Linked DNA regions of Homo sapiens. The protein of the gene in region 1 interacts with the protein of each later gene in a pairwise test. Each region holds a gene or a part of one and is shown on either strand. Other genes may lie near its edges.

Region 1 (3,751 bases):
TAAACAGAAATGTATTTAAAACCAAGTAATGTAATATATTATTACCCAGTGTATGGCAATTATTTCCCCGACCTCATTCATAGACAACCTTCATAATTTGTTATGAAAATTAATAATGTACCCCCCAAAATACTGTACCCAATTTGTAGTACATTATTAAGGCAGCCCTAGGAACCTAATATAACATATAGCAAACACTCAAGAAATTGTTATTTTATTAGTCTACTCAGGCTACTTACGACTCCCCTTTGCAGAAGTTTATGAGGACCAAGCCCAAGAATTTCTGGTTAGCCGGAAATGGAGGTTGAGTCTGTGGATGTCAGGTAGTGTGCTTCCTATCCATGAAAATCCAAAACAGGGTATGAAAGTGGAGTGTGTCTAACTCAAAACCCATGATTAGGAAGCACAGTGGGAAAAGAGCTGGCGAGGTAAAGCTCAATACCAAGAGCAAGAGTCAGGAGTCAGATCTTAAGACAAAACAAAGAGTCAGAAATCCAAAAGTAACTAGTTAGAACAGGAGGCACATGAGGATCATTGGTAAATGTTACAATGATTGCTTAAAAAAGAAATAAGTTAGCTTAGCTGGGCTCATTGGGCTGGCCAGATTATGGGTGTGTTGCGTATGAATGTGTTGGACTCACCTCTGTATCTATAGAGGTGCTGTTTAATATGGTAGCCACCAATCATGCATGGCTGCTTAAAATGAAATTAAGTAAATTTTAAAATCTGGTTCTTCAGTAGCACTAGCTGCATTTAAAGTGCTCAATAGCTACATTTTACTGTATATTACAGAATATTGCCCTCGCAGCAGAGAGTTCTATTAATAGCTCAGGGTCTTCCATGGCCACGATGCCAAAGTACAAGCAGAGATCTAAATTCTGAGTTCACCCTACATTTTCAAATCATCCTAGGTTTACAAAACTGCTTTGACAAATGGTATCAGAAAGGGTCAAGTACATGTAAAACTTTACACAGACAAATAATGGGTGCTTAGCTACAGGTCCATGTTTTCCAAGTGTAGCGCTGTTCAAGCACCAGCAAAAACATTCTCAGATCACGTTGTCACAAACTCTCTTTACTGCTGTTTATTGCCTCATCTCCTGAATGTTAAAGGGAAGCAAGTCAAAACACCTGCGATGATCAAGTGTTTGTTTAGTATGAAATTAGGACTTCCTGCCATTCTAAACTTGAAAAGCCGCAGTCCACAGTTATCAGTCTATAAGCTGTGATATGTGTCTAGCAGCCCTTTCAGTGAAGGCTGGCCACCCTTGCTCAGCTCTCCAATTTCCTCTACATGGATGTTCTCAACCAGTGTGAAAATGTGGAATTGTGGCTATTTGTTCACATGATTTGCACAAAATATTCAGCCGGAACCTCCTCCAGCTGATAGAAGGAATAACACAGAGGAGAAGAATTGAAGTTGCAGAGTGTGGGGGTTGTGGGGGTGGGTTAGGGAGGGACTGTAAAAATGAGTCAAAGTAAAAACCCTTATCAATACCTAGATGATGGGTTGATAGGTGCAGCAAACCATGACGGCACACGTTGACCTATGTAACAAACCTACACATCCTGCACATGTACCCCAGAACTTATTAAAATTAAAATTAAAATTTAAAAAAGCATACAGTCAAATGTGTTATATACCAAATTTAGAGACCTCCAAGTTGTTTATGCTACTTGGTTAAGTTATTTATGTCTGTTTTAGTGCATACATGTTATTTGAAATCCCTATAATTATGAGTTGAGAAGGCTGGAATTTGCACTAGACTTCTTCTCTCCCTTTCTTAATCAGAGTGGATTCATTTGTCTATTGTGAAATTATTTAAGGAAGCACACGTGAACCACATTTAATAAATGGCAGGCAAGGCTCAGGCACATGTTTCAGCACGTGTTTGCTTTCCTCCTGTTACAACAGTCAACTGAGCAATAAAGAATGAATACACACACACACACACACACACACACACACACCCCTTATCATGACCTTGGCTACTGCCTATACAAGAGTAAGCAGTTATTCAGTGAAGGAACCAGCGCAAGAAAGGAGAAAAAGTAAACTTTCATCTTCTCCTCTTCCTTCTCCTCCTCCTTTTTTGCATTATTGTTGATTGAGCGAGCAAGATATTCAATTGGACCAATGGCTGAATGGCTAAATGCTGTGTGTGAGCAGGAAAGCCTATATTCTATTCCTGAATCCTCTATAAGAAGTTCTTCAATCTCTATAACTCTCTTGGGTGCTCTGTGCCTCATTTTGCAATATGGCAGAAGCTTTACTCCTATCCTCTCTTCCAGGGATGCAGAGTAATTTAATGAATTGCGTTATGTCTGTCACCATACACAGAGTCCCTGAGGCTGGGGCAGTTGCTGAAGTGATACACGTGTTCCTGTTGTCCCAGAGGACTAGAGATAGCACCATTAATCTGTCTGTTATCTGAATTAATATTGAAAACACACATTCCCACATACACATTTGTTTTATCCTGTGCATCAGAAATGTGTCTCTAAGGACTTTCCAACAAGGCTTTGCTTCGTGTCTTCCACTTTTACCCTTGGTTTGACTTTGCAGCACCAGCCTGCTGTTATTGCTCACTCTATGAACCGTACCTGCTCGGTGCCATCCAAATGTCAGCCGCTTAGAGGGAGGCTTCGATGACAACCACAGGGAGAAGAGACTGAGCAGGAAACTGGTCAGGTCAATTAAGAGGTGGGCAGCATCTGTGACAACAGCAAGACTCCCAGCAATGTGCCCACCTAGAGAATGCAAAATAGTACACTGTGTTAAGGTCCCAGAATGCAGCTAGATTCACAGACATGCTAACCATCATGGGTGAAAATGCCACAGACTCACAAAACTTTAGAGGAAAAAGAGATCTTAAAGTTGATTTAATTCACCCCTTCTGCGACTCAGAGAGGGGATATGATTTGAACATGTAGAAATCAATTTCAAAGGAGAAGCCATTCCTGGGGTAGAAAAGACATAGAGACTAGAAAGTGTGGGGCAGGCACATCTGGAGAACACCTTAATTAGACTGGGTATAAGGATTCAAAAGAGGAGAATACAAGAGAATCAGGCTGAAGCAGTGCGGGTCAGATTCAAAGAGTCTCATAATCCAGACTGAGGACATGGACTTTTGTTTATAAACTAGATGTTGCGATCTGGCCCACAGATGTGTTTTTATTTGACTTATAATTTAATCAGCATCTTTACCCTTTCCTTTTTCTCTATTAATATATATTATCCACCTGAGCTTGAAATCCCTGTAAGAAATAACAGGGAGCAGAAAGGAGAAAGGGCAGGTACCTTCCAATGGGCGTCCTCAGTGCTACAATCCAATAAAGCATAGGGATGCAATGTAAGCCATGAGAGTCCTGCCTGGCTTTTCCCTTTATTTGATGTGCTCCCTCTACTTCCCTCTAATCCTCCTTTGAGAAAAGACCTCCAGCCTCCAAAATAGAAGTTAAAGAAAAACCTTGCCCTTTCCTTCCCAGACATGGTTTGTTGTTTGAGAGCAATAACCTTTATTGCTCTTACTACATCTTCCCAGCAAAGGGCTTTTGCTGACTGATTAGTTCTCCCTACAGCTGTTTATTGCCTTGTGTACTACAAAATAGCAGAGACTGTCAGCCATCAGCCCCGCCATCATCAGACTCACCTTGTCTCGCCTAATTTTTAAAAATTACATAGATGGCTCATAATTGCAATAATCCCCACAGGCCATTGGCTCTAGCCGTAGTTAATAACTGGTTTGTC
Region 2 (3,751 bases), on another chromosome or scaffold:
TGGTCTCCCTGTTAACTATTTAATGGGACACTTGAGGCCAGGGAGTATTTTACTGGCCTACACTCAATTCAGAAGCCTGTTCCCTTTTATTTTTTTTCTTTGAGACAAGGTCTTGCTCTTTCGCCCAGGCTGGAGTGCAGTGGTGTGATCACAGCTCACTATAGCCTTGACCTCCCGGGCTCATGTGATCCTCCCACCTCAATCTCCCAAGTAGCTGGGACTACAAGTACACACCACCATGCCTGGCTAATTTTTTAAATTTTTTTGTAGAGACGGGGTCTCCTGACATTCCCCAGGCTAGTCTCAAACTCCTGGGCTCAAGTGATCCGCCCACCTCAGCCTCCCAAATTGCCAGGATTACAAGCGTGAGTCACTGCACCTGGCCTCAGTTTCCTTGTTGATCAGTGAGCCCTAGACAGGATGAGGAGCCAGCTGTGCCTCAGGCAGGGCCTGCTCACCGGTGTGAATAGTAGAACAAGACTTCCTCGATCAGCGTGAAGATGGCCAGCTCCAGGAGGAACCAGTGGAAGGTGGGTAGCTCACGGCGGCAGGGGTCTCTCCACCATTTGAGGAAGGGATAGAGGAAGACCACCATGGGGAAAGATATCATGCACTGGTTGAAAAGAACTGTGCGGATAGACTGGCGCAGTTTCACAGGATCCACCTGCCCAAGGGAAGGGAGGAGGGAGATGGATAAGAGTGTGAGAAGTAGGCTCCACCGTGACCTGCTTACAGGAGGCCCTCACTCTGGTTGGATTCTGGGAGAGATGTCGGGGGACAGCCAGTAGCTCCTGACTGCCACCCAGCTCTGGGCCTGGAAACGTTGCAGAATAAGGCCCTGGCTGCTAGGCAGGTGAGTAATACCCCTGTCCTTGGAAACTTCAGCAGCCTTCAGTCTGTGTCGGAACCTGCCTTCTTCCTGGTTCTGCACATTATCACCACTGCCCTCCCCATTTCTCTGGCCAGGCCCCATGTATTTACAGGTAACTTGGGTAGCCTCCATGGTGCTTGGAGAAGGCTGTGACTTTCTGAGTGATACCCCATTTCAGCCATTTAGCCCCTCTTCATCAGAGAACCTTGTTCATGATTGGATGCAGAGATCAAGATCATCTGCCTCCTCAAGTGGTCCAGCCTCCCTGCAGTAGGCCCAGAGCAAAGAAGCAGGTAAGCCAAGGAACTGCTTATCCAGCTTCTTGACCAACTTGCTGGTTTTCACAGTGATGCTGTGAAGATGGGGGCCTGCCCAAGCATTTCCACCAGGGTCCACTGTACAGAGCTGGTCCCAAGTGTCCAAAGTCCATTTGGCCTCAATACTGCAGCCAATATTTCCCCCAGAATCAGCAACCCTTTGACCCTTCCCTTTGTCAGAGCACTGGGGCTCCAGGCAACAGTCCTGTGACCATAGATTACTTCCTGGATCCTGATGAACTTGTTTGGTTAGAAGGGATTTCTCCAAGTTCCCTCTGTGAGCTGGAGGGATTTCTGCCCCAAAGCGCGACAGGTTCAGAATGGTCCCCAGCTTGAGGCCTGCCTCTTCCTCCAGCCTTTCCAGGCACTGCATGCATTAACTGATTTCAGAATTCACTCTTTGTTTACTTCCATCCCATTGCGAGGCCAGGTCTCGCCAGCCTGTTGTGAGAGGACATGTTAGGTGAGGCCATTACACCTTCTGGAAACCTTGACCAAGAGGCGGGGTATCACATCTATCTATTCATTTATTTATTTAACTGATATTTATTGAGTACCCACTATGTAGCACTCAGTGTACTGGGTGTTGAAAATAAAGCATGAGCAAAACAAAGATTCCTGCCCCCATGGAATTTATGTTCCAGTGAGAAAGGTAGACTAGACACAACAAATATAAAAACATATATATCAGGCTGGGCACGGTGGCTCACACCTGTAATCCCAGCACTTTGGGAGGTGGAGGTGGGAGGATCACTTGAGGCCAGGAATTTGAGAGCAGCCTTGGCAACATCACGAAACCCCATCTAATTTTTTTTAAAAAGCTGGATGTGGTGGTGTGCACCTGTAGTCCCAGCTATTCAGAAGCCTGGGGTGGAAGGATCATGTGAGTCCAGGAGTTTAAGGCACACCAGCCTGCGTGAGAGAGTGAGACCCAATCTTGTTAAAAAAAAAAAAAAAAAAAAAAAGGGCCAGTCGCTGTGGCTTACGCCTGTAATCCCAGCACTTTGGGAAGCCAAGGTGGGCAGGTTATGAGGTCAGGAGATTGAGACCATCCTGGCTAACATGGTGAAACCTCGTCTCTACGAAAAATACAAAAACTTAGCTAGGCGTGGTGGCATGCACTTGTAGTCCCAGCTACTCGGGAGGCTGAGGCAGGAGAATCACTTGAATCCGGGAGGCGGAGGTTGTAGTGAGCCACCGAGATCATGCCACTGCACTCTAGCCTCGGTGACAGAGCAAGACTCCATCAAAAAAAAAGGCAGGCCGGTGCTGTGGCTCATGCCTGTAATCCCAGCACTTTGGGAGGCCAAGGCAGGCAGATCACGAGGTCAGGAGTTTGAGACCAGCCTGACCAATACGGTGAAACCCTGTCTCTACTAAAAATACAAAAATTAGCCAGGCATGGTAGTGTGCGCCTGTAATCCCAGCTACTCAGGAGGCTGAGGCAGGAGAATCACTTGAACCCGGGAGGTTGCAGTGAGCCGAGATTGCTCCATTGCACTCCAGCCTGGGTGACAGAGTGAGACTCCGTCTCAAAAAAAAAAAAAAAAAAGCAGTAATATAGACAAGAGAAGATGGTGAATTAGACCAGGGTAATAGTGATGGAAGTGGTGAGAAGTGGTAAGAAGTGACTGGATTCTGAATTTATTTCAGAAATAGAGTTAATAGGGTTCCTGGATAGATTGGATGTGGAGTATGAAGGAAAGAGAGTAGTCAAGAATGACTCCAAGGTTTTTGGCCTGAGAAACTGGAAGATTGGAATTGCCATCCACTCAGATTGGGGAGGTTGTGGGTAGTAAGTAAAGGCTTTGGCAGGACGATCAGAAATGCTCTTTTGGACATCATGAATTGGCAATTTCTATTAGTATCCACGTGGAGATGTCAAGGAGGGAGTTGGATATTTCAGCTTGGAATTCAGTAGAGAGTTCTGGGCTAGAGAGATAAATGTGTGAGCTGTCGGCCTATGGATGGTATTTAAAGTCATGGCACTGAAGAGATAACTGGGGGAATGAATATAGAGAAGAGGACCAAGGCCAGAGCCCATGGGACATTCAGCATGAAGAGGTTGGGGAGAAGAGAAGGAATCAGGAAAGGGACAGTGAAAAAGTGAACAATCAGATGTGATGGGGAGCCGGGCGCGGTGGCTCATGCCTGTAATCCCAGCAGTTTGTGAGGCCGAGGTGGATGGATCACCTGAGGTCAGGAGTTCAAGACCAGCCTGGGCATCTTGGTGAAACCCCGTCTCTACTAAAAATACAAAAAATTAGCTGGGCATGGTGGCAGGTGCCTGTAATCCCAACTACTGGGGAGGCTGAGGCAGGAGAATCGCTTGAACCCGGGAGACAGAGGTTGCAGTGAGCCAAGATTGCGCCATTGTACTCCAGCCTGAGCAACAGAGCAAGACTGTCTCTAAAAAAAAAAAAAAAAAAAGAAAAGAAAATATTGAGGGGCTACCTAGAGAGCAGGGTGTCCTGGAAGCCAAGTGAAAAAAATATTTCAAGGCTGAGGGAGTCAGCAGCTGTGGAAATGTCTCTGGTGCTCTAATGAAACCATATCATTGGTG
Region 3 (3,751 bases), on another chromosome or scaffold:
GCAATTTAAAGCAATATATGTGAAGTGCCTGGCACACAGGAAGAACTCAGGAGATGGTAGCTGGTAGCAAGGCTGTAGATCTAAGCCTGGTCCCCTCAAAACACCTTTGTGATTGTCAGGCATCATATGGATGATCAAACAAGTTCGGGGAACTCATTTTCCCATGGTCCCTAAGTAGTCGAAGTGGGGTACCTCCAGGTGCAAGGGCATATGCCTAGGGCTTAAAGGCAGTGACTGCGCAGTCAGACAAGCCTTGCATCAAATCATAATTCTGGCAATCGCTGTGTGACCTAAGGCAAGTTACTTCACCTCTCTGTGCCTCTGTTTCCTCATCTATAAAACAGATGTACTGTTTCTGTCTCCTCTACCACCTCTTAAATCAACAATTGTAACGTGCAAATCTGAGACCCAATCATTTCTATTCCCCACCTTCTCAACGGGCACACCATGTTGAAGACTTTCAGAAGACAGCTTTGAAGGGAGTATCATTTTTCTAACTTTTTTTGTGCTTCTACTTTCAAGATTTCCATGTCATTAGATGCAAGTCAATCAAATGATCATACATTTTCCTACAAATGCATTGTAAACAAAATAAAAATTTTATCCCAAAGGGAAAATGAAAAAGAAAATTCAACAACTCTTTACCCCTGTAACTTCCTTTATTTTTCTCCATAGCACTGACAATATATATAGATTTCAATGTTGGGCTTGTTTTCTGCCCGGACCAGGATGTAAGCTCCATGAAGACAGTCTCAATTTTGTTCACTACCGCATCATCAGTTCCTAGAACAGAGCCTGGCACCTCTGCAGAATGTTAAATGGCTCTTCGTGAATCAACTCCAGGTGGGTTGCCCACATGAAAAACATTTCTGCATCTTTTGCAAAAGTGGCTTGGCTAGTACCATCCACTGTTTTCCAGTGTTCCTTTATGTGACATAAATCTTACTAGAACTCAGTACTAGGACAAAGTGTGTGTGTGTGTGTGTGTGTGTGTGTGTTTCCTGAGCTCACATATTTTCCACCAGCTGGGTTCGCTTCTATTGTCAGGAAGCTTGGAGCATAATTCACGTTCAATTACAGTGTTTCCCTTAATCCCTTTTTCTGATGGGGACATAGGATATAAATAAGTGTAAGAAGATTCTGTTGGTACATGTTTAAGACCCTATTTTTAACCACAGACTGCATTTATTCTACTAAGATGCTTCTCAAACTTGAATGTGCCAGAGAATCACCCGCGGATCTAGTTGAAATGCAGAATCAGACTCAGTAGGTCGGGGGCGGGGCGTGAGATGCTGCAGTTCTTACAAGCTCCCAGGTGATGCCTATGCGGCTGGGCCCTGGACCACATTTTGAGTAGCAGAGGGTCTAAGAAACGTGCTTCCTTGATTCAGCGGGATTTCTCTCTCCTGCTCCTTGGCAAAACATGACCAAAGTCTCAAAAACTGAAGCGGACGGCAGAAGCACCTAGAGAGCTGGTTAGACCTACGCCTCGCTGACCCCCCCCCCCCCCCCCCACAGCCCATGCCCGCTGTGATCCCGATGAAAGGGGCTAGGAATCCACCTAGGAAGTTCCCCAGGTGCTTCTGCTGTCGGTGGCCTCGCAGCAAATTTCGAAAATGACTGCTCTCTTCAAGGTTTTCTCAAAGGTAAACTCTTGGGGACAGCTGTTGTCACCAGTGGTACACCTGCTCGTTCAGGATTTTAGGGGGCCCATCCCGCTGTTTCCAGCCCAGCGTCAGGAGGGGACCCACCCCTCCTCTCCGGCTACTCCGACCGCGGCGGAGTCAACCCCCACGGGCCCGGGGCTCGGACCCCCGCCGCTCCGCCTCGCACAGCCGGGCCGGCCGGTGGCAGCCACCGCAGGCCCGAGAGGCGGGGACCGTGCCGCTCATGCGCAGAGCGACCCCTGGGCCCACAAGGCGGGGTCCCCGCGCGGTCCCCGCGCGCCCCCCGCCCGCCTTACCTCGCTGGACCAGGGTGGCCAAGGAGAAAGCGAGGCAGACAAGGAACGCCGAGCGCCAGGCCACCATGGCTGGGAGCAGGCGGAGGGCCCCGGAGGAGCACAGTTAGCGCGAGAGCGCCCGAAGGGGAGGCCGAGGAGGAGCGGGAGGAGGAGCCCCGCCGCCTCTGCAGGGTCCCGCCCAAAGCCCGCGCGCGCGCGCGGCGCGGCCCCGGGAAGATGGAGGTCGGGCGCGCTAGAGAGCCGGCGCCTGAGGGCGCCTGGGCTGGGGTTAGGCCGGGGGGCGGGGCGAGGCTGCAGTATCGGGGGCGGGGCCGCGTTCTGGAGGCGGGGCTCCGGGCGAGGGGCGTGGCCTGCGGGCACCCGGTGGGTGGGGAGGCCTGGGTTGGGTTGGGCTGGGTCCAGCGGCAGCGCGCGGTCCGCAGACCCTGTCCCACCTCGGTCCTCGAGACCGAAGTCTCGGAGGTGGCCCCGCGGACCTGGAGCAGTGAGTCACCAGTGCCGGGGAGCGGGAGGCGGCAGCGCCGGTGGGCGCCGATTTCCTCCCGGGTGACCTTGAGAAGGGCTCTTCCCCTTCTGGCCTTGGTGTTCTCCCGGTGAAGGGTTGTTCCCTTGGGGCCCCTCCAGACACCGTCCAGCACGGAGCCCCGCACTCTGTCCCCACCCGCTGTTCCCTGCAGGAGTGAAACCCTGGCCGGAGACTGAAGAAAAGGACCGTTTTCGTGACTGGCTGCGGTCAACAAGCAGTGACACGTCTCGAGAAAACGAGGCCGGGGGCGCCCGGGTGGGCGACAGGGGAGGATGGGGGCGTCCCGGAGCCGAAGCGCCGCGGGCTCGGGAGACTGGGGGTAGGGACTGGGTCAGCTCTCCCGAGGCTTTGATGAATGCGCTGAAAGTGCAAGTTCATATCTGCAGAGTCGATCTCAAAAACGTGCTTAATGACCGACAAACGCGCTGCAGTCCTTTCCCATGAACCCCCGCAAACGGAGTCCGTCTCCCAGACCCGAAGAAATCAGATTCCGATACGATACTGTGCCGACCAGCAAAATGCCCGCTGCAGCAGTTGATGGGAACGCTCCCTAGAAGAGCCCCAGCTGCAACCGGCTCTCGAAGACAAAGAGGAAGCGCTACTGCTCTCCGGAGTGGTAGCGTGAGCCTGTCCCTGCCATTATGCGGCACCGGCTGCCCAGGGCCACATCCTCCTTAGAGGGCGGCTACTACCACCTCCCCTCAATATCCATTCGGCAGCTTTCCTGTGCCCCCAACCCAGCCCTCGCTGCCATAGGCACCCCCCTCAGTGGCTCCCACCAACCCCTAAGGAACAGTGGGGTGTGGGGTCTCCCTGAGATGGAGCCGAAATCTCCCGTGTGGCTTACATCCATTGCCCTGAATCTTAGGGCTGCAGAAACAAAACAGCATATGAGGAGTGGATCTTCCCAGGCTCAGGGCATTAATTACTCTATGAATGGAACATTATTCCATTCTAGCTGTAGAATTAACAGAAATAGCTGGTAGTTATTGAACACACACTATACACATGGCATATTCCAGGCATTTTACCCTTAATTTTTATTCCTCACAATGCCTTATGTATCATCACCTATTAACGAGGGAAAAGCAGCAAAATGGAGGTTCCTTGAGGTTGGGGAGTTAGCCAGGTCTAGTCTCATGTGTCAAAGGGGGAGGGTACCACTAGGAACCCCAGCTGGTGAATGGCTAAGAATGTGTGCTGTAGAGCCAGACCGGGTACAAATCCTGGCTAAACCCAACAAGGTTGTGCTAAGGATTAAA

Evidence for each region.
Region 2: the proteins of SLC30A8 (region 1) and FAXDC2 interact in binary tests that used the Homo sapiens proteins (3 or more experiments, as listed by UniProt).
Region 3: the proteins of SLC30A8 (region 1) and CD99L2 interact in binary tests that used the Homo sapiens proteins (3 or more experiments, as listed by UniProt).

What each region holds. Positions count from the first base shown.
Region 1 is NC_000008.11:117,151,944-117,155,694, reverse strand, and holds part of SLC30A8 (proton-coupled zinc antiporter SLC30A8), read right to left. Parts: intron 2,752-3,751; coding exon 2,605-2,751; intron 1-2,604. UniProt on the Homo sapiens protein: Proton-coupled zinc ion antiporter mediating the entry of zinc into the lumen of pancreatic beta cell secretory granules, thereby regulating insulin secretion.
Region 2 is NC_000005.10:154,822,929-154,826,679, forward strand, and holds part of FAXDC2 (fatty acid hydroxylase domain-containing protein 2), read right to left. Parts: intron 665-3,751; coding exon 459-664; intron 1-458. UniProt on the Homo sapiens protein: Promotes megakaryocyte differentiation by enhancing ERK phosphorylation and up-regulating RUNX1 expression.
Region 3 is NC_000023.11:150,896,559-150,900,309, forward strand, and holds the start of CD99L2 (CD99 antigen-like protein 2 isoform 1 precursor), read right to left. Parts: upstream 2,111-3,751; 5' UTR 2,031-2,110; coding exon 1,964-2,030; intron 1-1,963. UniProt on the Homo sapiens protein: Plays a role in a late step of leukocyte extravasation helping cells to overcome the endothelial basement membrane. Acts at the same site as, but independently of, PECAM1.